Regions from separate parts of the Homo sapiens genome. Here region 1 is linked to region 2. The links come from fine-mapping of genetic effects on gene expression. Tissue or cell type: whole blood. Region 2 holds a variant in brackets; the other region holds the start of a gene. All regions are shown on one strand. Distances are between the middles of the regions.

What was found. PIP is the estimated chance that this variant, and not a neighbour inherited with it, causes the effect.
Region 1: ERC1 starts here. The variant in region 2 is fine-mapped to the expression of ERC1 in whole blood (INTERVAL, PIP above 0.99).

The regions. Positions count from the first base shown.
Region 1 is chr12:990,031-992,714 of GRCh38, forward strand. ERC1 (ELKS/RAB6-interacting/CAST family member 1) reads left to right here and starts at 1,193. Exons shown (of 19, transcript NM_178040.4): 1 at 1,193-1,292. It also overlaps a transcript of RAD52 not described here. RefSeq lists enhancers at 24-586, 1,148-1,709 and silencers at 408-457, 868-977, 998-1,507, 1,713-2,007.
Region 2 is chr12:1,482,936-1,485,619 of GRCh38, forward strand. The region is part of intron 18 of ERC1 (ELKS/RAB6-interacting/CAST family member 1); the gene reads left to right. Among named protein-coding and RNA genes, the nearest start is that of LINC00942, 16 kb to the right of the region's middle. The variant A/G (reference allele first, on the strand shown) is at 1,327.

The DNA of each region.
Region 1 (2,684 bases), 490 kb before region 2:
GCATGTCGATCCTGGGAGGGAACAGTTAAGAGTCCGGGCAGGATGAAACAGTAGAAACTGGTGAGTGAATGAATGTGAAGGCTGAGGAGCGACTGCAATTTGTTAATGGGATTATGAGGCAGTATAAAGTGGTTAATTACGGTGGCGGAGGTAAGCAGGAGTAAAATGATGGCTTTTAACTCCTCTCAAGGACACCGAAAATTATTTTAATAAACACTGGAAGGCTGGGAATAAATATAATTCACACCATTCTTACTTTCTTGGTTTAGAGATAGCTTATCTACATCCTTAAATTAATGGCTGTAGCTACCCTCTGCATGGCTCCAAAAAAAAAACAAAAAACAAAAAACAAAACCAAAGCCGGCTGCGAGTCTGCACGAGAAAATCGGGTTGCACCAGGCCCCAGCCGCCCGCCGATTCGCTTAGCTGTCGGAGGCTAAATAAACAGCTCCCGAAGCAGCGTTTGGCACAGCGCAGGGTCGGAACGTGGACACTAATTTCCGCCCACGCTCCCCGCGTCCTGGCGGGATCACCACAGACACGACGTCCATTGCTGGGGTCCTCGGCGATGCCCGTGTGCGCAGCCCCGCGAGTCTCAGGTCAGAAGACCACTAATTTCGCGGCCGCGTTCCACGAAGCTAAGGGGCAAAAAACCAGCTTTCTTGGGACAAAGCGTCCCCCCAGCAGCCAGGGTCGATCCCGGCGCTGCTCCCGCGGCGCTTGGCTGCCCCGGGCGTAACGGGCCACGAGAAGTAGGGGGTGGGGCGCCGCTTAGGTTTGGGAAGACACGAAGCGGCTCCTCGGGCTTCCAGCGTCCACTTCCTACGGCAAGCAGGAGGAGACAAGCGCCACCCTGCGCTCGCGGAGCCGACCCCGGCTCTCCCCTCCCGTGGCCGCAGGGGTCGTGTGTGTGTGTGTGTGAGTGTGTGTGTGTGTGCAGGGACGCTCCGCGCCCATCACTCTGTTTCGGTGCTAATCGACCGCCGTGGCGCCGATTTCCCCCGCTTCCCAGTTCCTCACCCGCGTGCCCCGGAAGGCGCCCGGAGGCCCCCGGGCCGCCGCGTCACGCTCCCGGGAGGCTGAGGGAAAGGGAGGCAGCCGAGCCGGGAGCCCGGGGAGGCGCGCTGCGCCCCGCGGCGGGGCTGGGGGCGGGGCTAGGTGTCTCGCGCAGGGGGCGGGGCGCGGTGACGTCGCGGGCGCCTGGGCCGTGCTGTGGCGGCGGCGGCGGCGGTAGTGGCGGCGGCGGCGGTGCCTGGGCGGCAGCAGCAGCAGTAGCGGCAGCCCTGAGGACGGTGAGACGGCCGCGGCGGCGGCGACAGCGCGGAAGTCGCGCGGGACCCAGAGCTTCCCCCCTGTCGCTAGTGCTGAGGCTTTCGCCTTTCCTACCCAGCTTCTTGCTCACGGCCCGGGCTGGGCTGGGCAGGGCAACGCGCCCCCGGGGAGGGGCGGAGCTGTAGGTGAGGCTTCGCGACCCCCTCCCCCTCCTCGGCAGCCCGGGGGGTGGGGAGGGGCGGGCCCCACCCAGACCACCGGCGCCCACCCGCGGGCTCCACCCAGCCGGGCTCCGGGATCGGGCGGGAGCCGAGGCGGTAGATGTGGGGATCCTGGGGCGGGAGGTGGGGGAGTGGGGACTGGGGCTCTGGGCACTTGGGGAGCGGAGGGGGGGAGGCTTAGGACTAGTGAAGCCGCGGACGAGGTAGTGGGGAGACGGAGAAATTGGGGAGCCATGAGGTTGGGGTGCGGTCAGGGTGGATCTTTGGGTTAGGTGAGTGATGTAAAATGCTGAAGATGATTCTTTTCTTTTCGATGAAATGGTGAGATAAAAGATGAAGTGTATTTCAAAAGGACGATGAGCTGTGCATGTTGCCTTTGAGGCAGTTGCAGAACCTATTTTATTGCACTAGATCTCACGTTTCTACTTTAGGGTTCGATTCTTTTTCTTCTGGCGGGGTGGGTGGGGGGTCGGAGAGGGAAGAGAATCCCCTTACTTTGGCTCAGGTAAATTGTGAGCGTGGATGTATCTGAAAGTTTTACACCGAAGAAGAGGGAGATCTTCGGTTTAGACAACTTCGTTCCGGCAGCCACCATTTGGGTCGCATTACGCTTAGCTCCTTCAAGGTGGTGTCTTCCAGTTTTTTTTCCCCCCAATGCCTAAAAGATCTCTTTATACCACCCTTTTACAGGCTTTATCCTGGCCCCTTGAGAGAAGGCCCCAAACTCAGGTGGTTGCTTTGGAAGGCACATTGCTGAATAATAGTTGCAGGTGGTTGTGGTTGACTGCTTTGGGTGGATAAAGTGAACAATTGGAATAGTTCTGTTGGAGCTAATTATATGAAAAATGCTTAAATGTTTTAAAGTACAACCGTCTTTTATAGCGTGTTGCTTGCTCAGTACACCTTGACTTTTAGACATTTTGTGTTCAGTGCTAAATTGTTGAAATTTTATTTCTCATTTGCAGTTATGTTTCTTGCAGTCTTTATTAAAACACTTTAAAATGAAATGGAACTCTTTTTTTTTGGTAGGCTCCTCAATTTCTGAGAAATGTTCTTGGAGTCAAGTGCTTTAAAAACATTTTGGGGGCAGGTGTGTCACTTTGTATGGAAATATTAGAGTAAGCAGTGTTCAATGTTCTTCACATCACTCTTTCACAACTTAGCACTGTAAATCAGAATCTTCTTTTCTGG
Region 2 (2,684 bases):
CCCCAGCCCCAAGCAGCTGCCACTCTTACTTCCCAACTCTGGATTTGGCTACTCTGGAATTTCATCAAGAATGGAATCAGGCTGGGCATGGTGGCTCACGCCTGTAATCCCAGCACTTTGGGAGACCAAGGTGGGCAGATCGCTTGAGCCCAGGAGTTCGAGACCAGCCTGGGCAACATGGCAAAACCCCATCTCTACAAAAAAATACAAAAATTAGCCAGGTGTAGTGGCATGTGCATATAGTCCCAGCTACTTGGGAGGCTAAGGCAGGAGGATCACTTGAGTCTGGGAGGTGGAGGTTGCAGTGAGCTGAGATCCTGACACTGCACTCCAGCCTGAGCAACAGAATGAGACCCTGTCTCAAAAATAAAAAAAGAATAGAATCATACAAGACGTGGTCTGTTGAGACCGGCTTCTTTCATTTAATGTAATGTTTTTATATACTTTACATAGTGTAGCTTTACATAATGTCACGTGTCAGAACTTCGTTCCTTTTTATTGGCCAGTTGGTTAATACTTTTTGAGTGGATATTTTATACACTTCAATTTTTCCCTTCTTAAGGTCGTAGAGTATCAGAATTATGCCTTTAAAAGTATATACAGTTTTAAAAGGTATTTATGTTATATATTTTGGTATATTTCTTATTGCAAAATTGATGTTGCTTGTGCTATAAACAGTACAGAAGTATGTAAAGTAAAAGTAAAATCAAAACTCCTTCCAGCCACTGAGAGCTTTTTTTTTTTTTTTTTTTTTTTTTTTTTTTTTTTTTTGGAGACAGAGTCTTGCTCTGTCACCCAGGCTGGAGTGCAGTGGCGCGATCTCGCCTTACTGCAACCTCCGCCTCTGGGGTTCAAGCTTTTCTTGTGCCTTAGCCTCCCGAGTACCTGGGAACTACAGGCACTCACCACCACATGTGACCGATTTTTTTTGTATGTTTAGTAGAGACGGGGTTTCACCATTTTGGCCAGGCTGGCCTCAAACTCCTGACCTCACGTGATCCACCTGCCTCGGCCTCCCTGAGTGCTGGGATTATAGGCGTGAGCCGCTGCGCCCAGCTTCAATGAGGTCTTTAAAAAATCTTTGTTCCAGCCGGGCGTGGTGGCTCACGCCTGTAATCCCAGCACTTTGGGAGGCTGAGGCGGGCGGATCACGAGGTCAGGAGATCAAGACCTTCCTGGCTAACATGGTGAAACCCCATCTCTACTAAAAATACAAAAAATTAGCCGAGCGTGGTAGCGGGCACCTGTAGTCCCAGCTACTCGGGAGGCTGAGGCAGGAGGATGGTGTGAACCTGGGATGTGGAGCTTGCAGTGAGCCGAGATCGC[A/G]CCACTGCACTCCAGCCTGGTGACAGAGCGAGACTCCGTCTCAAAAAAAAAAAAAATTCTTTGTTCCTACAAATTGCCTTAGTAAACATACTTGTACATACGTTCTTAAATTTCTTACTGGTGTTTCTGTTGAACATACTCTAAAAGTAGAATTATTTGGTCAAAGGACATATACAATTAAATTTGGCTGATGAGACCAAATTGCTCACCTCCCTACAATTGTCCCACAGGTCGTTGCTCTGCTGTTCCCACTTCCCATGCCCTAGCCAACTCTGTAGTTTATATTTCTTGTTCGTTTGTTTGTTTTGAGTTTTTCTTTTCCTTTTTTTTTTTTTTGAGATGGAGTCTTGCTCTCGCCCAGGCTGGAGTGCAGTGGCGTGATCTCGGCTCACTGTAAGCTCCGCCTCCCGGGCTCAAGCAATTCTCCTGCCTCAGCCTCCTGAGTAGCTGGGACTACAGGTGCACGCCACCATGCCCGGCTAATTTTTTGTATTTTTTTTAGTAGAGATGGGGTTTCACCATGCTAGTCAGGCTGGTCTCGAACTCTTGACCTCGTGATGCGCCTGCCACCTCAGCCTCCCAAAGTGCTGGGATTACAGGCGTGAGCCACCGTGCTGGGTCTTGTTTTTCTTTTTTTGAGACAGGGTCTCGCTGTGTTGCGCAGGCTAGAGTGCAGCAATACAATCACATAGCTCATTGCAGCCTCAACCTCCTGGGCTCAAGAGTTCCTCCCACCTTAGCTTCCAGAGCGGCTAGAACTAGAGGCACGCACAACCACACCTGACTAATTTTTTTGTTTTAGTTTTTTGTAGAGATGGGGTCTCGCTGTGTTGCGCAGGCTGGTCTTGAACTCCTAGGCTCAAGTGATCTGCCTGCCTCAGCCTCCCAAAGTGCTGGGATTACAGGTGTGAGTCCCCAAACCTGGTCAAGTTTATATTTCTTTTTTTTTTTTTTTTTTTTTGAGACAGAGTCTCGCTCTGTCACCCAGGCTGGAGTGCAGTGGCGTGATCTTAGCCCACTGCAACCTCCACCTCCTGGATTCAAGCAATTCTTCTGCCTCAGCCACCCAAGTAGCTGGGATTATAGGCGCCCGCCACCACGCCTGGCTAGTTTTTGTATTTTTAGTAGAGACAGAGTTTCACCACATTGGCCAGGCTGGTCTTGAACTCCTGACCTTGTGATCTGCCCACCTTGGCCTCCTAAAGTGCTGGGATTACAGGCGTGAGCCACTGCATCTGGCCATATTTAATTATTAATGAAATTGGGTATTATTTTTGTGTTTGTTAGCCATTTGTATTTCTTCTGTGAGTTTTTTGTTCATATTCTCTGCCTGTTTTTCTATTAGGTTATAGGTTTTT